Linked DNA regions of Homo sapiens: all the other regions are linked to region 3. Evidence: fine-mapped expression QTL. A gene starts in region 3. Each other region holds a variant in brackets. All regions are shown on one strand. Distances are between the middles of the regions.

Region 1 (8,173 bases), 22 kb before region 3:
AAGTAAATATTGAGTTAGCAATCAAAAAACTTTCCACAAACAGAAGCCCAGAACCAGATGGCTTCGCTGGTGACTTCTTCCAAATGTTTAAAGATAAATTAACAAATTCTTCATGAAGTCTTCCAAAAAACAGAAGAGGAAGGAACACTTGCCAACTCATTACAAGGCCACTACCCTGATACCAAAACCAGATGAAGACACCACAAGAAAACTGCAGACCAATATCTCTTATGAATGTACGTGCAAAAATCCTCAACAAAATACTACAAACTCAAATCCAGCAATTCAGCCAGGCACGGTGGCTCACACCTGTAATCCCAGCACTTTCGGAGGTTGAGGCAGGTGTATCACAAGGTCAGGAGATCGAGACAATCCTGGCTAACAAGGTGAAACCCCGTCTCTACTAAAAAAAAAAAAAAAATACAAAAAATTAGCCAGGCGTGGTAGCAGGCGCCTGTAGTCCCAGCTACTCGGGAGGCTGAGGCAGGAGAATGGTGTGAACCCGGGCGGCAGAGCTTGCAGTGAGCCGAGATCACGCCACTGCACTCCAGCCTGGGCCACAGAGTGAGACTCTGTCTCAAAAAAAAAAAAAAAAAAAATCCAGCAATACATAAAAATGATTACCCACAATGACCATGGCAAACATATCCCAGGAATGCAAGGTTGGTTAAACATATAAATATCAGTCAATGTAATAAACTGTAGAAATTGAATAAAGGACAAAACTACATGATAATTTCAATAGATGCGGAAGACAAAAGCCAGATGTCTCACTTCTTAGAACAAAACTCCATCTCACCCAATGCCCACAACATCCTACATGATCTGGCACCCATCATCTCTCTGTCCTCACGTCCCTCTCCCACTTCTCTCTCTGCACTAATCACAGTAGCCGCCTTGTTGTTATTCAAACCCATCGGGTACACTCCTGACTCAGGGCCTTCACAGTTGCTGTTCCCTCTACCTGGAACACTGTTCCCCCGAATATCCACATAATTCACTACTTCACCCCCTACAGGTCTTTATTCAACAACTACCTTCTCAGAGAGGTCTCTCTGGCCACCCTACAAAAAATTGCTACCCTCTCCTCCCAATACTCACACTCTCCCTATTTCCTTCCCAACAATACTTCTCTCCTAAGCCTTTATTATTATCTGAAATACTCTGAATTTTACAATAAAATTCACAATACTTATATATCTTGTTTGTTATCTATCTCCCTCAACTAGAATGTAAGTTCTCTCAGGACAGAGACATTTTTGTCTGTTTTATTCACTGCTATATCTACGGCATTGGTTTATTTATTTATTTATTTAGACATGGAGTCTCGCTCTGTCGCCCAGGCTGGAGTGCAATGGCGCAATCTCAGCTCACCGCAACCTCCACCTTCTGGGTTCAAGCGATTCTCCTGCCTCAGCCTCCCCAGTAGCTGAGACCACAGGCACACACCACCATGCCCAGCTAATTTTTTGTATTTTTAGTAGAGACAGGGTTTTGCCGTGTTGCCCAGGCTGGTCTTGAACTCCTGACCTCAGGTGATCCGCCTGCCTCGGCCTCCCAAAGTGCTGGGGTTACATGTATGAAGCACCGCACCCAGCTGCCTATATCTACAGCATTTAAACTAGTATGCCACTTAATTGACAATCAATAAATATTGGTTGAATAAACAAATGAATACAAACAGTTTGTCACTCGACTCTTCACTCAGCCAGCAGTGACTTACCTCACCCACCTGTCCACGTGCCTGACACTGTGCTTCAAGCTGGAGTGCAGAGAAAGACTAGAACCAGACCTGGACCCTGCTAAACTCACAGACAGGGCTGGGAGAGGAGTCAGAACGTACGTAACTGAGACCCCAGGACGACAACACTGGGCGTACTAAGGGAGAGAGGGTCAGGCCCAGCAACCAGGGAGGAATCCATGGAGAGACGGTGGTAAGCTGGCCCTTGAAGGCCTAGAATGCTCTGGACACATGGAGAAGGGAGTGAGGATGGGGAAAGAGAGGGAGAGGGGAGGAATGACTAGGGAATCAAGAGGGGACCTGCGTGGCAGGACTTCAGTGGAGGAATAAGGCTCCTAAGGTTATTGGAGAAGTTCATGAGGGGCTTTAAATGCCGGGATAAGGGGCTGGGCCTAGTTCCACAGGCACCAGGGAGCCATGCGAGGCTTTTGAGCAGGGAAGGGAGGTGGTGTCAGAAAGCTCACTCTGTCAGCCAGGCACAGTGACACATGCCTGAATTCCAGCTACTCGGGAGGCAGCATGGGCAGGATCACTTGAGGCCAGGAGTTCAAGACCAGCCTGGGCAACACAGGGAGACCCTGTCTGGAAGGAAGGAAGGGAAGGAAAAGAGAAAGAAAAGAAAGAAAGAAAGAAGGAAGGAAAGAAAGAAAGAAAGAAAGAAAGAAAGAAAGAAAGAAAGAAAGAAAGAAAGAAAGAAAGGAGGGAAGGAAGAAAGAAAGGAGGGAAGGAAGAAAGGAAGGAAAGGAAGGAAGGAAGGAAGGCGGGTGGGAGGGAGGAAGGGAAGAAAGAAAGAAAGAAAGAAGAAAAGAAAGAAAATGGAAAGAAAGAAAGAAGAAAGAAGGGAGGGAGGGAGGAAGGAAAGAAAGAAGAAAAAGAAAATGGAAAGAAAGAAAGAAAGAAGAAAGAAAGGGAGGGAGGGAGAGAGAGAGGGAGAGGAAGGGAGAGAGGGAGGGAGGGAAAGAAAAGAAAAGAAAAGAAAGAAAAAGCAAGCAAGCTAGCTAGCTCACTCTGGCAGTGTGTGAAGAACAGAAGAACAGACTGTAGTGGGTGAGCAGGAAGACACGGAGACCAGGAAGGTGGCTTCTAGAACAGTTCTGGAGAAAGACAGCAAGGCATGAGCCAGGGAAGGGCAGAGAGGACGGAGAGGAGGGTAGGCCTGGGAGAGGTCAAGGGCTTTGTGACTGACAGTTGTTGGGAAGGAAGAACTGGAGCCTGAATCTCAGGTCAGAACATCCGAGCATTCTACGGAGGCACAGACAGAGCCAAGGGGTGGGGGCGGGATGGCATCACCTCTGAGGGTTAGAGTTCTGGCCGCAGAGGCTCAGCATCGGTGGGTACCATGCCAGACCCAGCAGCTTCCCAGCGCCAGAGGAGGGATGCACTCTGGCCCTGCCCGCCTTTCTGCCCCTCAGCCCCAACCCCCAGGGCAGGCCTAAAGAAGAGTTTCTCCAGCTGGCTTTGGCGGCCAAGACGCAATGTCATTTCTGGATGAGACAACCAGCTCTAGAGATGCGCCAGGCTGCAGGGTGCAGGGGGTGAGGGGGGGGCAGCTGTGTCCCCAAAACACAGCCAAGGAGCACCTCCCAGAACCAACCAAGACAGTGGCAGAAGCAGGGCTGGCAGGGGGCCCCCAGCCCCAGCTGGCTGGTACAGGGACAGCTTTGATGGGGCCTCCATCTGCCTGGGCCCCAGCCTCCCTGTGAGGTCAGGCCCCACCAGCCCCCATCAGCTCCCACCAGCCAGAAGTGATGGTCCCCTCCCTCAGTCAATAAGCATTAAGGGATTTACTAGTGCCTGGGGTGTGCCCCGCTGTTTCTGGATCAGTGCACTATGAAGGACACAGACTTTGGAGGCGTCACGGCCAAGTTGGAGGTTGATTGTTTGTTTGTTTGTTTT[G/C]AGACAGGGTCCTACTCTGTCACCCAGGCTGGAGTGCAGTGGCATGATCAGAGCTCACTGCAGCCTCTATCACTGGGGCTCAAACAATTCTCCAGCCTCAGCCTCCCCAGTAGCTGGGACTACAGGCATGTGCCACCATGTCCAACTAATTTTTTAATTTTCTGTAGAGACAGGGTCTTGCTACATTGTCCAGGCTGGTCTCTAACTCCTGAGCTCAAGTGATCCTCTCACTTTGGCCTCCCAAAATACTGGGATTCCAGACGTCAGCCACTGCACCCAGCCAGGTGTTGGAGTTTTGTCTGTCCCACTATTTACCTGATTCTATCTGTGGGCTTCAGTTTTCCAACCTGTCAAATGGCATAAGAAAAAACCTTCCAGGCTGGGCGTGGTGGATCATGCCTGTAATCCCAGCACCTTGGGAGGCCGAGGTAGGCAGATCACTTGAAGTCAGGAGTTTGAGACCAGCCTGGTCAAAATGGTGAAACACCATCTCTACCAAAAATACAAAAATTAGCTGGGTGTGGTGGCATGGGCCTGTAATCCCAGCTACTCAGGAGGCTGAGACAGGAGAATCACTTGAACCTGGGAGGCAGAGGTTGCAGTGAGCTGAGATCGCTCCACTGCACTCCAGCCTGGGCGACAGAGTGAGACCCTGTCTCAAAAAAAAAACCAAAAAAAACACAAAAACAAAAACCAAAAAACACAACAATTAGTGGCATGCCCCTATAATCCCAGCTGCTGGGGAGGCTGAGGCAGGAGAATTGCTTGAACCTGAAAGGTAGAGGTTGCAGTGAGTCTAGATCGTGCCACTGTACTCCAGCCTGGGCAATAGAGAGAGACTCCGTCTCAAAAAAATAAAATAAAATAAAATATGAAAAGAAAAAACCTTCCCCACAAAAGTGTCAGTCGTGAGGACTAAATAAGAGCACGTGCAGAAGAGAATGACAAGACTTTCTAGTCTTCAGGAATTTCTGCAGAGACCCAAGGCTGAGAACAAGGGATGAGCAGTGCCCACATCTCAAGAGAGGTGCCAGCACACCTTCAGGACTCGGCGAGAGAACAGAGCTATCCCATTTGGCCCCCCACTGCTTGCGTGGAAGTCATGCTCAGGGGAGGATTTATTGAAAGAGTTCTGCTCTTGACCAGGCGCGGTGGCTCATGCCTGTAATCCCAGCACTTTGGGAGGCTGAGATGGGCAGATCACTTGAGGACAGGGGTTCGAGACCAGGCTGGGCAACATGGCAAAACCCCATCTCTACTAAAAATACAAAAATTAGCCTGGTGTGGTGGTGCACGCCTGTAGTCCCAGTTGTTCAGGAGGCTGAGGCAAGAGGATTGCTGGAGCCCAGGAGTTCAAGACCAGCCTGAGCAACATAGTGAGAGCCCCCATCTCTAAAAAAGTTAATAAATAAAGAATAAAGAGTTCTACTCTTAAGCTGAGTGAGGGGCTTCAGGTGACACTCACCCCCCCCCCACAGAGGGCAGTGCTTGCCAGGAAGGAAGCTGGCCTTTTCTCCCTGACTGGACGCTGGCTAAATGCTGAGCCTCCTATACCAGGACAGCCTGAGGGGCGTGCATAGAAGACGTCTTTAGGACACTCAGATGCATGTCATCTGGCATTCGGGGAGAATGGACCCTGGGCCCTGACTCCCCCAAGGGAAGTCTGTGGGTGGGGATGCCAGATGGAGTAGTCTGCAGTGTCGTGGGAGGGGAGAGGGCGGCAGTGGGGGAGGCCTCCCTTCCCGACATCCTACAGGGCTCAGATGGACACCGTGGAGGGAGACACGGTGCTCATGAGAGGGGGCCCCTTGCAGGATTGCCTACCGGGGCAAGACAGCCTGGCTGGAAAGGCAACCCTTGCATCAAGGAATTGGGCAAAGCAAAAACCAGGGCCAGAGACCCCAAAACGCCCACAAAGTACCCCCCACACCCCGCCTCTGGGCATCTGCCACATGTGGGGCACCGACAGTCAGCAGAAACAGCTCCGGACACAGGCAATACTTGGCCTGTTCTCAGTCATCCTTCCTTGCCTGCTCATCTCTGGAGAGGACAGAATCGCAAGGGGAGGGGAGATGTCAGGGATGTTGGGGTAGAAGATGGAACAAGGAGAACAAAACCGGACGACAGCCCTGCCTCTTCCCAAGGCAGTTTTCTGGTCCGGATAGAAGCTTTGTTTGGGGCTGGGCGTGATGGCTCACACCTGTAATCCCAGCACTTTGGGAGGCCGAGACAGGCGGATCGCCTGAGGTCAGGAGTTTGAGACCAGCCTGGCCAATGTGGCGAAACCCCATCTCTATTAAAAATACAAAAATTAGCTGGGCGTGGTGGCTCACACATGTAATCCCAGCTACTTGGGAGGCTAAGGCAGGAGAATCGCTTGAACCCAGGAGGCGGAGGTTACCGTGAGCTGAGATCGCGCCACCGCACTCCAGCCTGGGCAACAGGGTGAGACTCAGTCTCAAAAAAAAAGGCTGGGTGCAGTGGCTCACGACTGTAATCTCAGCACTTTGGGAGGCTGAGGTGGGTGGATCACGAGGTCAGGAGTTCAAGACCAGCCTGGCCAACATAGTGAAACCCCGTCTCTACTAAAAATACACAAAAAAATTAGCCGGGCTTGGTGGTGTGTGCCTGTAATCCCAGCTACTTGGGAGACTGAGTCAGGAGAATCACTTGAACCCAGGAGGTGGAGGTTGGTTGCAGTGAGCCAAGATCGTGCCACTGCACTCCAGCCTGGGCGACAGAGCAAGACTCTGTCTCAAAAAAAAAAAAAAAAAAAAAAAAGCTTTATTTGGAAGCAGGGCTAAAGTTGTTTTGATTTCAGTGGGACCAGACTGTTTAGTTCATGTGTGTGACTAGAGAAGCAATGGGCTCTGGCCATGGGTAGGAGATGCAGCCAAACTAGTGTGAGGACAATAAAGTTGTGGCTGGTTTACTTTTCCAAAGTCCAGTCTGCTCAGTAAACCTGGTTAACATGTGCAAGCGCATCTGTGTCTGCAGCCACAGGGCCCAGGGCCATGGAGCTGGGAAAGGAGGAGAGGTCTAGCCCCTCTGCTTGTGGCTGGGCTGGCGTCATCTTCCCAGAAGCAGTAGCCCTTTCCCATGTTGGGGGACAGGCAGGGCTGGGGCTTTGGGGAGCCAGGGACACGGCTGCACACAGGGACCCTCTGGCTCTGGTCCTGCCCTTTGGGCTCCCTGTCTGTGGACAGGCCCCATAAACCTTGGTGCCTCATGGGACCCAAACAGGTGCTGAGCCCAAGTGGGAACGTGAATTCTGGTGTGAGGATAGAGTGGTAGGGGAAGGCTTTTGGAGGAAGCGGACTTTGAGTTGAGTCTTGCAGAAGGAGGATTTCAGGATGCACAAAAGAGGAACTGGTGTTCTTGGTGGAAGAAATGGACGCGTGCAAAGTCTGGGAAGTGTGTGTGCCCACACGGCTGGCACAGCCAGAGTGTGAGGCCCATGAAGGGGTGTGATGGGATGTGGATTTGGAACACTTGATATTACCATGATTATTGCCCTTAAAGCAGCGTCCACATTGGCCATAACCAATCTGGGCCTTGCTTCCCTCCTCTGTAACCTGGGGAGAATTGCTCTATTTCTTCTTGGGCCCACAATATGCCCTGGCAATAAATGAGTCCTATTTTCTCAAATTAACACATTAACCCAATGCTCAGAGGACACCTTTTACAGTCAGAAAAGCTCAGGCTCAAATCCCAGTTCTGCCCCTTCTTCACTGTGGAACTCCTGGTAAGCTTCTCTCTCTGTTTTTTTCCCCCAAGATGGAGTCTTGCTCCATTGCCCAGGCTGGAGTGCAGTGGCGCAATCTCAGCTCACTGCAACCTCCACCTCCCGCGTTCAAGCGATTCTCCTGCCTCAGCCTCCCAAGCAGCTGGGATTATAGGTGCCTGCCACCATGCCCAGCTAATTTTTTGTATTTTTAGTAGAGACAGGGTTTCACCATATTGGCCAGGCCGGCCTTGACCTCCCAAAGTGCTAGGATTACAGACATGAGCCACCGCGTCCAGCCAAGCTTCTCTTTACTGATCTGTAAAATGGGGATAACAAGCTCTACTCAGAAGGAGTGATCAACATAATTGTACATAAAGGCCGGGCGCAGCATGAGCCTGTGGAAACAGGAGTTCCTCGCCCCCCAACCCTGTCCCCACCTCCATAGAGGCTCTCACTTACATAGGAGGCCAGCAGGGTGGTCGGGGCCAGGACGAGAGCCAGGTAGAGGCAGGGGGCTGTGGCAAGCAGGCTGGAGGCGCAGATGAGGGGCTCAGCTCCTGGAATGACTTTCTTGTACCTCCTCGCAGCTTCTGCCCCCAAGATGACCCCAATGACGCCGGTCATGATGGTCAGTGCCCCAAAAATCAGGCTGATGGGGAAGAGCACAGAAGGGTTGGTCAGCTGGGTGAGCTTAGCATAGGGACTCTTATCCTGCTCCCAGCCCCAGGTCTAGCCCCTCGGCTCAAGTGCATGATCTGGTGTCTACAGGGAATATGGCTGTGGGCCCCTGACCTGACCCAGAACCTTAC
Region 2 (8,173 bases), 55 kb before region 3:
CCAGGCTGGAGTGCAATGGCACAATCTCGGCTCACTGCAACCTCTGCCTCCTGGGTTCAAGCAATTCTCCTGCCTCAGCCTCCTGAGTAGCTGGGATTACAGGTGTGCACCACCATGCCCGGCTAATTTTTTTTATTTTTAGTAGAGACGGGGTTTCATCATGTTGGCCAGGCTGGTCTCGAACTCCTGGCCTCAAGTGATCCACCCACCTTGGCATCCCAAAGTGCTGGGATTACAGGCGTGAGCCACTGTGCTCGGCCGGCCCTCCAGTCGTTTCTCCATATTGCTTATCAGTCACTTTCTGAATCCCACAAAGGACCTCATCACTACCTTGAGCAAAACCTTTCTAAGGCTCTTCACTGGCTATAGGGTTAAAAATGTCTACGTTCCTGGCCGGGCGCAGTGACTCACGCCTGTAATCCCAGCACTTCGGGAAGCCGAGGCGGGCGGATCACGAGGTCAGGAGATCGAGACAATCCTGGCTAACATGGTGAAACCCTGTCTCTACTAAAAAATACAAAAAATTAGCTGGGCGTGGTGGTGGGCGCCTGTTGTCCCATCTACTCGGGAGGCTGAGGCAGGAGAATGGCGTGAACCCAGGAGGCGGAGCTTGCAGTGAGCCGAGATCGCGCCACTGCACTCCAGTCTGGGTGACAGAGCGAGACTCTGTTTCAAAAAAAAAAACTACATTCCTTAATGATCTCCAAGAGCCTTCACAACTTTTCACAACCCATGACAATCTCCAGCCTCAGATCCTACGGCCCATCTCTCAAAATTACCCTCTGCCACACTGAACATGGAGCTTCTTGAACTCACAGTTATAATACTTCCTGGAGCCTGGGGGAGGGGCAAGAATTGGGGCACTATTCTATAGCCCCTGTCCTCCTATCAACAAAAAAGCCCTTGTCCCACTAGCACAGCGATGATTCAGGACCATGGAGAGCATCCCGCGTGCAACCCCTGACCCCGACCCTGACTGAGGCATGCTCTGCCTGTGTGGCCTATTCACTCTTCCCACTTGTCCTTCAGGAACCCAGCACAGAAACAGCTTCCTCCGGGAAGCCTTCCCCGGCCCACCTGAACAACCATTTCCTCCTCTGGGCTATTGAGTAACCTGTGTATCCTTCCATCACACCAACACTGTGCTGATTTTTGTCTGTGCAAGAATCTGTCCCCCGCCCTTCACCAACAGACCGTGAGCCTCGAGGGCCCGTACCCTTTCTGATTCATCTCCACGAGCCAGTACAGAGGAGGTGCTCAAAGAATGTTTGTTGATTGAATGAGTAAATGACATTTAGCAGGTGCTCAGGAAATGTACATTGATTTGCATCACGCGTCTGTTGCTCTGAATGACTCAGAAACCAGATTCGTCTCCTGGTTCCTCTGGAAAAGGCATTTTCTTCCTGATTGACTCCACCCTCCATTAGCTTCCACCTGCTGTTTGCCTCCACCCTTTGATTAGCCTTCCCCGCAGGTCACCACCCACGGTGGGGAGAAGGCACCTCCTCTCTGCTCTTGCTGTTGCCAAGCTGAGGACTGGTTGGGGCCCCCGTTCCCTCCCCCAGCCCGAGCCTATCTTTGCTCAGAACGCTTCGTCTCTGCCTCTCTCTCCTGCTCAGAACAGATGGCTCTGAGTCCCCACTAACACAGAAGTTCCTGTTCTGCCATTTGAACATTTTTAACACTTTCTACATTACAGAAGCTTCAGTCTCTTTTCATCATGGATGCAGACTATCAGAAATAAAGACTCCACCGAAGGGCATCGAGTCCAGCCTCTTCCCCATCCCATGGAGAGGCTGCACCTCAGAGATGGCCAGTGGCCTGCCCGAGATATTGTAGTGGATGCTACCTTTGTTTTTGTTTTCTGTCATCTTGTTTTCTTTCTTCTTCTTTTTTTTTTTTTTTCCAAGAAGGAGTTTCACTCTTGTTGCCCGGGCTGGAGCACGATTTCAGCTCACTGCAACCTCCGCCTCCTGAGTTCAAGCGATTCTCCTGCTTCACCCTCCTGAGTAGCTGGGATTACAGGTGCGCACCACCAAGCCCAGCTAATTTTTGTATTTTTAATAGAGACGGGGTTTCTCCATGTTGGCCAGGCTGGTCTTGAACTCCTGACCTCAGGTGATCCACCTACCTTGGCATCCCAAAGTGCTGGGATTACAGGCATGAACCACCGCGCCCAGCCTGTCATCTTGTTTTAATTCCTGTTTTGTTTTGGTGCTGAGACTTCCTTCCTCTTCCTAACGGCACACTGGTCTGCTGGTCTTAATGCGGCTATAAACCAAGGCATGGGTATAGGATCCAAGCTAACCCAACTGGAATCTCTTGCCCAGGGCTTTAAATCTTGAGGAGGGTGGCAAAAGAATAGGGATAAAATATCTGGAGTTCTGGCACAGACCCCAAAATAATATGGCCCAGGAACCCTGGCTCCTGAATCTCCAACCTTCTCATCAATTCTATGAGTTCCTGATGTGCTTTCAATGCATCCTTTGCCTGGTAGAGGTAGTCAGTCTGTTTCCGTTGCATACAACCCCACAACCCAAACTGATATGGTCACACAGGAGCACACGCAGTCACACACCTGTCTGTGCTGAGATAAAGCATGGCTCCCGGAACCTCCAGCTGCCTGCTGCCAGCTTTGTCTGTAGAGGCTGCATTAGATTAAACAACCTCCCAAGCCCACCCAGGCACAAAGCAAAGTCAAACACTTCAGGGAATGAAACAGACCAATATTTGATGTTGCAGAGCAACAAGCCAGGGTTAGGGTGTGGGAATCCAGACACACAGGTTCAACCCCCTCAACCTTCAGGACAAAGTGGAAAAAGAGCTTTTAGGCCAGGCGCATTGGCTCACACCTGTAATTGTAGTACTTTGGGAGGCTGAGGCGGGTGGATTGCCTGAGCTCAAGAGTTCGAGACCATCCTGGCCAACATGGCAAAACCCTGTCTCTACTAAAAATATGAAAAATTAAGGCTGGGTGCGGTGGCTCAAGCCTTAATCCCAGCACTTTGGGAGGCCGAGGCAGGCAGATCCCCTGAGGTCGGGAGCTTGAGACCAGCCTGACCAACATGGAGAAACCCCGTCTTTACTAAAAATACAAAATTAGCCGGGCGTGGTGGATGCCTGTAATCCCAACTGCTTGGGAGGCCGAGGAAGGAGAATCGCTTGAACCCGGGAGGCGGAGGTTGCAGTGAGCTGAGATTGCACCATTGCACTCCAACCTGGGCAACAAGAGCAAAACTCCGTCTCAAAAAAAAAAAAAAAGCTTTACTAATACCTGTTGGTATTGGTTCCAATAGCTAGCATACCCCCATGTGGCCACACGCCAACATGGTGATGCACACACAGGTACAGGCACACGCACACAGAGATACCTCCATGCCTGGATAATACCTGACAGCTGGAATGCAGCTTATGTCTGGAAAGAGCAATTAACACATAAAGAGAGTCAGGTCAGGCTTAAGGACTCATCCTGCTGAACAGCATTTTTCCTCCTCTTGACATTCCCAACAAACAAGTCCAGAGTATTCGTGGCTGAGATTACCCAACAAGGGCCTTTAGGCGAGGAAGATGTGTTCTGTTTACCAGACTCCACTCCAGCCTGAGTGGCTGGGTTCCCCCAGGCTGTTATCGTAACCTCGACCCACCAGGACTGGCCCCAAAGAGGCAGGAGGTGGGAGTCTGGGTTGGCTGCAGAGGAGATATTGGTCTCTGTCACTTGCCGCGTCCACCAGCCCCAGAGCTCCCACTCTGCCCCAAACCACTTTAGACAATAGCTTCCTATAAACTCCCAGCTGGGCACCTCGTGTGGCTCAGCCTTGGGAAGTACCGCCTTGCCCTGCCCAGCAACCCAAATATCAGAATGCACTTGAGTCATAAGAAACTACCCTGGATTATAGGATTAAAGCCCCAGCTCCTGGACCTACATCTGACGCCCCTCTGATCCCAGATGGCCTCTCTCACCTCCTCTCCCCGCTCAATGACACACGCACCCTCCTCTCTGGCCATACCACACCCCTCCATGACTCACTGCAAATCTTCTGCCCCACTCTCCCCCTCTTTGTGGGTCCATCCCCTGCATCTAGAATTCCCTTTGCCCCCCACCTTGTTACCAACTCCAAAGCCACTTCCTTGAAGGCTTCTGGGGCACGGAAGCCCTTACTCTGCCCATAGGTGTGCCACACTTGCCTGTCCTGCTGTGGGCTGCGAGGTCCAAGGGCAGGGCTGGAGTCTGATTCACTGCTGGACACCCTGATGGGCACCCGCCGATACCAATGCATGTTTGTAGAGTTGGCATGAACGAGGTTCTTGCTCTTCCTCTACTGGACTCTGGGTGGGGAGGTGGCAGCTGGTGTTCTTTTTTTTTTTTTTTTTTAAGACAAAGTCTCACTGTGTCACTCAGGTTGGAGTGCAGTGGTGCCATCTCCCTTCACGACGAACTCCACCCCCCATCCCCAGGATCAAGCGATCCTCCCACCTCAGCCTCCCAGAGCTGGGACCACAGATGCGTGCCACCACGCCCAGGTATGTTTTGGTATTTTTGGTAGAGACGGGGTTTCACCATGTTGCCCAGGCTGGTCTTGAACTCCTGACCTCAAGCAATACATCAGCCTCTGCCTCCCAAAGTGTTGGGATTACAGGCGTGAGCCGCTGTGCCCAGCTGAGTGTTCTGACCCTTGGGCGGCCCTCACTCATTTTCCGGGAGCCTCGCCTTGCAGGGGTCCTCCCTGGGGCTGTTGGGAGGAAGGTTCAGACCCTGGAGCTGGGCTTCTGTGGGTCTAGACCCAGCCTGTGCTAATCACATGAGGCCCAGGCTAGAAAGCCATGTCAACACACCTCTCAAACACAGCCAGGGAGTCAGGGAGCCACCTAGGTCACACAGCCAGTGAATGTTGAGAGGGACCGTGGCATCCTGGCTCCTGCCCAGTTGCTGCCTCCTTCTCAGGAAAAACAAAATATCCTCACAGATCTTTTACCTTGTAACTTGAAGGGCTGCCTGTTGCATAAGCTCCAAGCATT[G/C]AGTCACGGTCAAGGGCCTGGCTAGCCTGCAGGGAGGGCTGGCTGTGGTGCGGCCCTGCTCCTGGGGCTTGTTGCAGCCAACAGGGAGGGCTGGGGGGCACCCCACAGAAGGCAGGGACAGAGCAGCAAGCATCAGGGGCTGCGCAGGAGTCTCGGTCGTTGCTCTGCCTGCAGCTGCTGGGAGACAGGCACAGCCTGGCACAGCGAAGGTGGCCATCGGTGAGTGAGCAAGTGATCGCCTGGCTGGGCACCAGGGGAGGCGGAAAGAACATGAGAACAAGCCTCCCCACTGCTGCCCGCCTGGAAGCTGTCGATCTCCCACAGGGCCCGCTGAGCCCAGCTGCTCTGAACCCAGTGGCAAGCGTGGGCCCCGCAGAGCCAGCCCTCCCCATACGCTGTGCTGGGGTCAGAGCGTGGACCCAGGGAAGACCGGGGCTACAGAACTGGGCAGGCCAGGAGGATCCCTGCACGGCCACTCAAGTCCTCAGCAGGGTTCTGGGGCCGCTGCGCCCGTGTCTGTATAGGCGTGGGTTCCTCTGCGTGGTTCCCTGGAACTTGGAGCCACATCCCCACCCCAGCACCCAAGTGGAAACTCATCTCCAAGAGCAAGATTCAGCCCCCACGTTTTGTTCAAAGGGTGGAGTTGGCTGGGCACGGTGGCTCATGCCTATAATCTCAGCACTTCGGAAGGCCGAGGCTGGCGGATCACCTAAGGTCAGGAGGTCAAGACCAGCCTGGCCAACATGGTGAAACCCTGTCTCTACTAAAAATACAAAAATTAGTTGGGCGTGGTGGCACATGCCTGTAATCCCAGCTACTTAGGAGGCTGAGGCAGAAGAATCTCTTGAACCTGGGAGGCGGAGGTTGCAATGAGCCGAGATTGCGCCACTGCACTCCAGCCTGGACAAGAGCTAAACTCCATCTCAAAAACAAAACAAAACAAAGAGTGGAATCACGTAGAGGGTGTCCTGTGCCTGTGACTTTGCAGAATGGAGAAGCTGGGTCAGAGTGGGAGGTCCAGGCTGCGGACCCCTAGAGACCCATGCTGAGCCAGCCCCCCAGCTTCCCCACTTCAGGACAGCCCTGCATCCTTGGCCTGGACTGCCCATCCCGTCCTCACCCACTTCCCCTCCAGCAGAGGCACGAGAGGCTATAAATAACACGGCTGTCTACAGGCCCAAAATCCATGGGCTTTGTACTGGCCTCTCTTTATTCAGGGCCCAGCAGCAGCCAGGCTGGAGACCCCAGGCTGGGGCAGCCTTGAGCGGGATGCAGGCACAGGCCCAGGCCTCCCACGCAGAGTGCTGACAGCTCCATTCCCAGCCCAGCCACAGGGTCCTGCCAGCTCTCCAGCCGGGAATTCAAAAGTGGCAGATGTGCCTCAGCCGGAGTCCCCGAGGACAGCCAAAGAGGAACCGAGGCACTGCTGCTGTGGGGACCAACGGGAGGCTTGCAGGCAGGACGAGTGTAGGCAGGGACCTCAGGGCTCCTCTGTAGAGGCGCCAGCGCCCGAAAGTAGGCCTTGTCTCTCCAGGTCGTTGCTGTCCACATCATTGCTGTCTGGGGTCCCTGCAGGAGGAAAGATGCTCAGCCTGCCCGAAGGTTGCAGAAGGTGCTTTGGGACCAGGCCTGGGCCTGGGCACGGGCTGTCAGGAAATCCTCTCTGTCCCAAATGCAGAATACATTCCAGATCCAACCCCTTGTCATCACCTTCAATGCCACTGGCGTGGTCTAGGCACCACTCTCCCCTGGAAGGGGAGTCGGCTATGCCTCTCGGCCTCAACACTGACCCTCCTACAGTCTGTTCTCAACACAGCAGCCAGGGAGATGCTTTGGCAACATCAATCAGACCACCTCGGTGCTCCTCTCCTGGAAGCCCCACAGCAGCTCCCGTCTCACTCTGAGCAAAAGCCACTGTCTTTACAAGGACTGCCTGCTCTGGCCCCGTATCCCTCACCCCTACCACTGTCCCTCTTGCTTCTGCTGCAGCCACACTGGCCTCCTTGCTGATCCTCAAACATATCAGGTGCATTCCCATGGCAGGGCCTTTGCATTGATTGTCCCCACTGCCGGAAGCGTCTTTCCCCAGGTCGCTGAACGGCTCACTCCCTCGTTTCCTCCAGATCTTTGCTCTAGTTTCGCCTGTGCAGTGGGGATCCTTGCAGCCTGCACCTACCTGTCCCTTTTTTTTTTTTTTTTTTTTTTTTGAGACAGTCTTGCTGTCGCCCAGGCTGGAGTGCAGTGGCGAGATCTCAGCTCACTATAGCCTCCGCCTCCCGGGTTCAAGTGATTCTCCTGCCTCAGCCTCCTGAGTAGCTGGGACTACAGGTGTGTGCCACCGCACCTGGCTAATTTTTATATTTTTAGTAGAGACAGGGCTTCACCATGTTGCCCAGGCTGGTCTTGAACTCCTAACCTTGTAATCCGCCCGCCTTGGCCTCCCCAAGTACTGGGATTACAGGTGTGAGCCACCGCGCCCGGCCCCTTTCTCCTTCCTTTCCTGCTTTATACCTCTCCATAGCACTCGTCACCCTGAACATGCTATATCTTTAACCTTTTCTGTTTCTGGTCTGTCTTCACCAACTACAGTGTCAGTTTCTACAGGGGCCTGGACTTGGCCTCATTCTTTCACTCCCCAGCATCTGCAACCTTCCCTGGTACATAGCAGGGGTGTACTAAGCATTTCTGGATGAATGAACAAACAAACTGGCCAGGGATTCAGGGGGTGGCCAGTGCTGTCTGTCCCTAGGGTGCCGGCCCTGAGCCGGGCCTGGTGCAATGGGTAGGGTACCTGTGACAGGCTGCCAGGCCCGGGTCTCGTCTCTCTCCAGGTACAGCGCAGTCAGCAGGAAGCAGCCGCCCCCCAGGGCGATGACAAAGGCGCAGCACAGGAAGCTCTGCTGCAGGCTGCGGAAGCGCTGCAGATAGGAGTCAGGGCGCCTGGCCCGCAGGACACTAGAGATCTGCGGAGGAGAAGGGATGAGTCTGCCAGGCCCACCAGCCTGGCCCCCAGACCCTCCCCACCCCACACACGCAGACACGTCTTACAAGTCCTGTGAGATAGGGGCTGCCAGCGTCTCCCAGGATGTGGCCCACCGTGATCTGAAGTGCCTCTGCCGTCCCCCGGCATCTGGGCACCACCACAGACTGCAAAACA
Region 3 (8,173 bases):
AGAGAAACACACCTGCAGAGGCACAAATACACACACACACACACACACACACAGGAACTCACTCTCACAGACATGTACACCCAGCCTCACTCATACACCCAGACACACAGACACATGTGCAGTGAGATGTGCACCCAGAGGCCTGCCCGCGTATGCACAGGCTCAGGGCTGCCATCCACACTGCAGTCAGAGGAGCGGCAGCCCCCTGTCGCTGCTCAGTGCACAGCCCTTTACTTAGGCCACTGTGTAAACGGAAGTCCCTGGAGCTGTACAGCACAGTGGCCTCGCTCATGCACAAACACTGGAAATGCATAGGTGAACATGTACATAAAAAGACGAACGTGTCCTGGCTTGCACGCATGTGCACACACAAGCCTGTTCTTCCAGAGGCACAGCAGTGGGCACCCAGCCTAATGTAGAGAGAGAAAGTGGGTCTCCCAGACACCAGGGTCTGTTTCCTGATAGCCTCTTGGTGTCCTAGAAAGGGTCGGGGTCTGCAGCACCTGCTCACGTGAGCCATGCGGCTCTGGCCCTGTCATTATTATGAAGAAGAACAATCCTCACTTTCATCAGTCAGGAGGTGACTGACAGCCAGGCCCTGAGCTGTACACTCGCAGTTGTCATCCTAAAAGAGGGGGACTGTCATTGCCCCCATTCTACAGATGAGGAAACAGAGGCTTTAGCGGCCCAAGGTTGCCCGTCTGAAGCTGGGGGAGCTGGGGCTCAAATCTCAGCCAGAGGCAGCCTGTCCACACACCCAGAACCACAGAAGGGGAGCAGAAGCCCCCAAGTGGGTCCCCGCAGAAACACCCACACCAAGAAAGCCCTGCGTGCACACCTCTAAGAGCTGCCCCATGCACATGAAGATCAAGGGATCAGAGGAGCAAAGCAAAAAATCCTTGCTCAGGGAGGGACGTGGTGGCTCACGCCTGTAATCCCAGCACTTTGGGAGGCCGAGGCCGGCAGATCTTGAGGTCAGGAGATCAAGACCATCGTGGCTAACACAGTGAAATCCCATCTCTATTTAAAAATACAAAAAATTAGCCAGATGTTGTGGCACAGGCCTGTAGTCCCAGCTACTCAGGAGGCTGAGGCAGGAGAATCGCTTGAACCTGGGAGGCGGAGGTTGCAGTGAGCTGAGATCATGCCACTGCACTCCAGCCTGGGCGACAGAGTGAGACTCCGTCTCCAAAAAAAAAAAAAAAGAAATCTTTGTTTAGACATTTAATTTGTCCCCAATTGCCACTGCAACCTGGCATACAAACTGTTATGTCTTTTTCCCCTTTTAATATTTTGTTTTTTATTTTTATTTTATTTATTTATTTTTGAGACTGAATCTCACTATTTCATCCAGGCTGAAGTGCAGTGACACGATCTCAGCTCACTGCAACCTCTGCCTCCTGGGTTCAGGCAATTTTCCTGCCTCGGCCTCCCAAGTAGCTGGGATTACAGGTGCCCGCCATCACGCCTGGCTAATTTTTGTATTTTTAGTAGAGACGGGGTTTCACCATTTTGGCCAGTCTGGTCTCGAACTCCTGATCTCAGGTGATCCACCTGCCTCGGCCTCTCAAAGTCCCCCTTTTATTATTTTAAATACACAAAGAAGACAGTCATTGGAAAGAAAAAAAGGAGACAACACAGGTAAGCAAAATAAATAGCTAAACGAAAATGCTCCAAATTGTGCCCATCTTCCATTTTCAGGAATGAGGACTCATCCCCTTGTTTTCTCTCCTCCTGGGCTCCTCTCAGCCCCATGGTACTCTAGAGGTGATCCAGAGCCAAGCGTGCACCCACCCTTGCTTTCATCTGTAGCCTACCACCCTGGCCCCATAAGAGCTGTTTCCTGCAAGAACATTTTAGCTGTTTACCCCCACCAGTTCCCAGATGCTCAGCACGGTTTCACTTCTCCAGGTCTCTATCCCCACAGTAACCACAGCCCCCTTTCTTGCACATACAGAGGAAGTGCTGATGGAGAAGGGACCTGGACAGGCAAGACTCAGGGTCTTAGGGCCCAGCCAGGGACCTCCAGGGCTAGCGGCAGAGATAGCGGGTCCCCAGGCTCGTGGGTTCAGAGAGCTCCACACTGGTGATTCCTGGCTCCCATCCACCTCTTGCCCCTTCTCGCCTTTGCGTGCCCTTGGCCCACACTCCAACTCAGGCCTCCTCAGCTTTGGCCTGATCCACTACAGCAGCCTCTGAACTGACTCCCTGGCTCATTTTGCCTCCATCAGGGCCTCAAATCCAATTATATGGCTCCCCATTGCCCAAGGCAGAAAGTCCAAGCTCCCAGTCTGGCACCCAAGAAGCTCTGTTCTCACCCCATACACCCCTTTGGGGTTTTTTGTTTCATGTGTTTTGTTTTGCTTTGTTTTGGCTTTTTGTCTTTAGGGGTTTAGATAAGATCTTGCTCTGTCACTCAGGCTAGAGGGCTCACCGCAGCCTCAAGCAATCCTCCCGCTTCAGCCTCAAGCAATCCTCCTGCTTCAGCCTCAAGCAATCCTCCTGCTTCAGCCTCCCGAGAGGCTGAAGACATCACTGTCCCTGGCTAATTTTTTAAATTTTTTGTAGAGACAAGGTTTTTCTATGTTACCCAGGCTGGTCTCGAACTCCTGACCTCATGTGAGGAGAAGCTCCTGACCTCTGAGCTCCTCAAAGACGATGACCAGGTCTGGGGATGGCTCTGCAGCCCCTAGAGTTTCATGATTCCATAGCCACTCTCTGGCATGCTGAGCTGGTAACTGACAGATCGATGCCCAGGTCTCAGAGATGCCTGGCAGCTGCAGGCACCCTCCTGAGCTCCCAGCCCGGCCTGTGCCTCCCCCTTGTCTGGCCGCACCTCTCCGCCTCGCAGGACTGCCATCAACCAGCCTCTATCTCTGCCCCATGAGATGGTCATTCCTGAGTTCAGGAACTCCAAGTCCGATTTCCTCCCTGGGTCCACAGCAGCCAGCAGGGGGTCCTGCCCACAGTTAGTGCTCAGCCGGTCTTGAATGAATGAATGACAAGAAGAGAAGAGCAAGTGGAGCCTCAATCAGCTGTTGTTATTGTTGTTGTCTTTGTTTGAGACGGAGTCTCGCTCTGTCGCCCAGGCTGGAGTGCAGTGGCACGATCTCAGCTCACCGCAACCTCCGCCTCCCGGGTTCAAGCGACTGTCCTGCCTCAGCCTCCCGAGTAGCTGGGATTACAGGCGTGAGCCACCACGCCTGGCCCCTGATCAGTCTTGAATGAATGAATGAGTGAGTGAGTTAGTGAATGAGTGACAGAAGACAGAGCAGGTTGAGCCCTGAAGCCTGCAAGAAGGAAGGCAGGACGTGTGAGGTTTGCGAGCAGCCTGTTGTCCTAGAAACACAGCCAGCAGGAGCTATTCTTGTCTGGCCCAGGCTACCCTGTCCTCCACCTAGAACCTGGGGGCCTCTGCCTGGAAGTCCTGCCTGCTGTCCTCACCCACCCACCCCTCATTATGTCTCTGGCCCCACCCCCACTGTGCCCTCCCTTAATTTTTAAAAAATATTTATTTATTTATTTATTTTTTATTTTTTATTTTTTTTTTTTTGAGACAGAGCCTTGCTCTGTCGCCCAGACTGGAGTGCAATGGTGGGATCTTGGCTCAATGGTGGGATCTCGGCTCACTGCAACATCCACCTCCCAGGTTCAAGCAATTCTCTGCCTCAGCCTCCCCAGTAGCTGAGATTACAGGTGCCCGCTACCATGCTCGGCTAATTTTTGTAGTTTTAGTAGAGACGGGGTTTCACCATGTTGCCCAGGCTGGTCACAAAGTCCTCACTTCAAGTGATCCGCCCACCTTGGCCTCCCACAGTGCTGGGATTACAGGCCTGAGCCACCGCACCCAGCCCTAAAATATTTTTAATTTTTTAAATAGAGACAGAGTTTCGGCTGGGCGCAGGGGCTCATGCCTATAATCCCAACACTTTGGGAGGCCGAGGCAGGCGGATCACCTGAGGTCTGGAGTTCGAGACAGCCTGGCATACACGGCAAAACCCCGTCTCTACTAAAAATACAAAAACTAGCCTGGCATGGTGGTATGCGCCTGTAGTCCCAGCTACTCGGGAGGCTGAGATAGGAATCGCTTGAACCTGGGAGGCAGAAGTTGCAGTGAGCCGAGATCGCGCCACTGCACTCCAGCCTGGGCAACAGATTGAGACTCTGTCTCAAGAAAAAAAAAAAAGGCCGGGCACGGTGGCTCATGCCTGTAATCCCAGCACTTTGGGAGGCCGAGGCGGGTGGATCACCTGAGGTCAGGAGTTCGAGACCAGCCTGACTAGCATGGTAAAACCCCGTCCCTACTCCTCCTCTACTCAAAATACAAAAATTAGCCGGATGTGGTGGTGCACGCCTGTAATCCCAGCTACTCGGGAGGCTGAGGCAGGAGAATCACTTGAACCTGGGAGACAGAGGTTGCAGTGAGCTGAGATTGCGCCACTACACTCCAGCCTGGGCGACAGAGCGAGACTCTGTCTCAAAAAAAAAAATAAATAAATAGAGACAGAGTCTCACTATGTTGTCCAGGTTGGTCTCAAACTCCTGGGCTCAAGCAATCTTCCTGCCTCAGCCTCCCAAAGTGCTGGAATTACAAGCGGGAGCCACCATGCCCAGCCTGTGTCCCTTCTTAGTTGAGGCTGGATTGGGAACATCAGTTGGTCCTCCCCGATTCGAGCACAGCTGAAAACCACCTCTAGAGGTGAGAACACCAGAGATGGGCCCAGGAGCAGAAAGATGGGTGATGGCTGGAAGGCCACCATGGATCTGCAGCCCCTGGCTGGTGGGCACAGCAGCAGGTACTGCCCAGGGTAGCCATCCCCTCCTCACCTGCAATGATGAACCAGTTCATGTAATTCAGGAGGTTGATGTAGCAGAGGACGGCGGCAGCCACGTAGGCCCTCCACGGGGGCAGGCTCCAGGAGGTGGGCGTGATGGGAGGGGGACACTGCCTGCCTGGCCCTGGGGACTGGCCCTGCAGACCTCCTGGCCCAGGCTCAGGGCACTCCGCTGACATCCCCCCAGCCATGCCAGCCTGCAGCTCTTGGCCTGAGACTGGCGCCAGGATGAAGCAACATTAGCTCAGCACGAAGTCACTTCCTGTGGGGTCCCAGGCTCCAAACCTCAAAGCACCTGCCCTAACTGTTGGGCGTCTTATCGCAGGTTCCTCCTGACCCCACGGCAGCTTCACCAGTGCGATTTCCCCATCGTCAGCCTCTGAGACCTGCTACGGAGGACAAGGGCTCCTGGCACCCCCACCCTGGGGACTGGACAACTCTGTGGTCCCCTTGATCTAGCCTGCAGCTTCAGTGGCTGCAGTGAGGAAGGGAAGCTTCCAGGGCAGGAAATGAGATGAGCCTCCCAGAGTGCTGCTTGCTGTGAGATGGTCTAGCTGCCCGTACGGGACTGTGAACCAATGCCTTGAAGCCGGGGCAAATGAGGAAGGCTGGGCATTGGCCAGGACAGCAGCATTGCACTCGACTGCCAGGCAGGATGAGCACCTACCCAGGATCTAAGGTCCTTCCCGGAAAAACAAAGGTAGCAGAGGGGGCTGCCTACAAGAAGACAGCCTGTGTGCAAAACTCATCAGTGGGGGCTAAATCTGGGGGGAAGACTTCAGTGAGGGGGGAGGGTGTCAGCACGGTCACGAAGCATCTCTTGATAGATTGCTTATTAGTAACAAAAGGAAAAAGAGTAACTATACAGTAGAGGAATCAGACATCTTGACCAAGGGGTTAAAATAAATCACCTGTGAGAGGCAGGAGGGTGTCGTGTGCCTCCAGATGTGAAGGTCTTCGCAGGTCACAGCATCATCTATGTGGCATTCCAGCCAGGAAGGCACAACCGGAATCTCATCATGAGAAGACATCAGCCAGACGCGGTGGCTCGCACCTGTAATCCTAACACTGGGAGGCCAAGACAGGAGGATCATCCAAGCCCAGAAGTTTGTGACCAGCCTGGGCAACATGGTGAAACCCCATTGCTACAAAAATACCAAAAAAATAAAAAATTTTAAAAAAAAATAGCCGGGTGTAGTGGTGTGCGTCCACAGTCCCAGCTACTTGGGAGGCTGAGGTAGGAAGGATCGCCTTAGCCTGGGAAGTCGAGGCTGCAGTGAGCCATGTTCGTGCCACTGCACTCCAGGCTGGGTGACAAAGCAAGACCCCAACTCAAAAAAAAAAATTTTTTTTTTAATTTTTAAAATGAAAAAACATCAGACAAGCCCAAATTGAGAAACACTATTTCTTTAAAGGGACTGTATATTGAAAAATGTCAGAGTCATGAAAGACTAAGAAAGACTGAGGGAGCTAGGCGTGGTGGCTCACGCTTGTTATCCCAGCACTTTGGGAGGCCGAGGCAGGTGGATCACCTGAGGTCGGGAGTTCAAGATCAGCCTGACCAATGTGGAGAAACCCCGTCTCTACTAAAAATACAAAACTAACTAGGCATGGTGGCAGGTGCCTGTAATCTCAGCTACTCGGGAGGCTGAGGCAGGAGAATTGCTTGAACCCGGGAGGCACAGGTTGTGGTGAGCCAAGATCACGCCATTACACTCCAGCCTGGGCAACAAGAGCAAAACTCTGTCTCGAAAAAAAAAAAATATTCTGAGGGACTGTTTTGGATTAAAAGCAACAAAGAGACAAGATAGGCCAGGCGCGGTGGCTCATGCCTGTAATCCCAGCACTTTGGGAGGCCCAGGCGGGCGGATCACGAGGTCAGGAGTTCGAGACCAGTCTGGCCAACATAGTGAAACCCTGTCTCTACTAAAAATACACAAAAAAGTAGCTGGGTGTGGTGGTGTGCACCTGTAGTCCCAGCTACTCAGGAGGCTGAGGCAGGAGAATCATGTGAACCCGGGAGGCAGAGGTTGCAGTGAGCCAAGATCGTGCCACTGCACTCTAGCCTGGGTGACAGAACAAGACTCCGTCTCAAAAAAAAAAAAAAAAAAAAGAGAGACAAGACAATAAGACAATTAAGAGCAGTACAGGATCCCAACCTCGCTCCTGTACTGGATCAACTGATAAAACTGGATCAGGAAGAAATAGCATATCAGCATCTGTGAACTATGGTTATGTAAGTAAATAAGTAAATATCCTTATCTGAAGTATCTAGAGGTACAGGGCCATGATTTATGCCACTCATTCTCAAACGGTTCAGGAAAAAATATTAGATATGTATAGTAAGAAAACAAATGGGGCAAATATTAATAATAGATGAATCTGGGTAAAGATTATAAGAGTTTCTTTACGCTATATGATAAACTTTCTATAAGTTATAAATTATATCTAAACAAAAAGTTAAAGCATAAAATGACAAACCAATTTAAAAATGGGTGAAGAGCCGGGCATAGTGGCATGGACCTGTAGTCCCAGCTACTCTGGAGGCTGAGGTGGAAGGATCACTTAAGCCTGGGAGGTTGAGGCCACAGTGAGCTATAATCATGCCACTGTACTCCAGCTTGGGCAACAGAGTGAGATCCCATCTCTAAAGAAAAAAAACATCAGGGGGACAAAAATGGGCCAAGGAGTTGAACAGACATTTCTCTGAAGATATACAGGTGACCGACAAGCACATAAAAAGATGTTCAGGCTGGGCACAGTAGCTCACGCCTGCAATCCCAGCACTTTAGGAGGCTCAGGTGGGTGGATCACAAGGTTGGGAGTTCGAGACCAGCCTGGCCAACATAGTGAAACTCCATATCTACTAAAAATACAAAAATTAGCTGGGCGTGGTGGCATGTGTCTGTAATCCCAGCTATTTAGGAGGCTGAGGCAGGAGAACTGCTTGAACCCGGGTGGCAGAGGTTGCGGTGAGCTGAGATCACACCACTGCACTCTAGCCTGGGTGACAGAGCGAGACTTCATCTCGGGGGAAAAAAAAAAAAAGAAAGAAAAATGTTCAACATCACAAGTCATTAGGAAAATGGCAGATTGAAGCCACCATAAGATATCAGTTCGTACCCACTAAGACGGCTATAATTTTAAAAAGAGAGAGAGAGGAAATAACAAATGTTGGTGGAGAGATTGAAAGCCTCATGCATTGCTGGGAATGTGGAGTAAGGCAGCCGCAGTGGAACAAAGTTTGGCAGTTCCTCCAAAGGTTAAACATAAAATTACCATATGGCCCTGCAATTCCAATCCTAGGTATATATCCAAAAGAACTGAAAACAGGCCAG

Which allele goes with the higher level. Positions count from the first base shown, and alleles are read on the strand shown. Sizes are in standard deviations (SD) of each study's normalised expression. Not every link is listed here.
For the expression in cerebral cortex of the gene that starts at base 5,054 in region 3, allele C in region 2 goes with a lower level than allele G (small effect, 0.39 SD a copy in GTEx).

What was found. PIP is the estimated chance that this variant, and not a neighbour inherited with it, causes the effect.
Region 1: its variant is the best candidate, but not a certain one, in a credible set for the expression of SPNS3 in whole blood (INTERVAL, PIP 0.84).
Region 2: its variant is the best candidate, but not a certain one, in a credible set for the expression of SPNS3 in cerebral cortex (GTEx, PIP 0.62).

Annotation. Positions count from the first base shown.
Region 1 is chr17:4,452,856-4,461,028 of GRCh38, reverse strand. It overlaps SPNS3 (SPNS lysolipid transporter 3, sphingosine-1-phosphate (putative)), which reads right to left. Exons shown (of 12, transcript NM_182538.5): 8 at 7,824-8,013. Among named protein-coding and RNA genes, the nearest start is that of SPNS3, 23 kb to the right of the region's middle. The variant G/C (reference allele first, on the strand shown) is at 3,638.
Region 2 is chr17:4,486,218-4,494,390 of GRCh38, reverse strand. SPNS3 (SPNS lysolipid transporter 3, sphingosine-1-phosphate (putative)) reads right to left here. Exons shown (of 12, transcript NM_182538.5): 10 at 8,065-8,163; 11 at 7,808-7,979; 12 at 6,187-6,585. The coding sequence ends at 6,497. It overlaps SPNS2-AS1 (SPNS2 antisense RNA 1), which reads left to right. Exons shown (of 3, transcript XR_001752763.2): 3 at 4,400-4,518. LOC124903899 (a long non-coding RNA gene) reads left to right here and starts at 7,939. Exons shown (of 2, transcript XR_007065583.1): 1 at 7,939-8,173. RefSeq lists enhancers at 3,730-4,230, 3,541-4,740, 7,869-7,948. The variant G/C (reference allele first, on the strand shown) is at 5,017.
Region 3 is chr17:4,430,821-4,438,993 of GRCh38, reverse strand. SPNS3 (SPNS lysolipid transporter 3, sphingosine-1-phosphate (putative)) reads right to left here and starts at 5,054. Exons shown (of 12, transcript NM_182538.5): 1 at 4,828-5,054. The coding sequence starts at 5,026. RefSeq lists an enhancer at 4,338-4,992.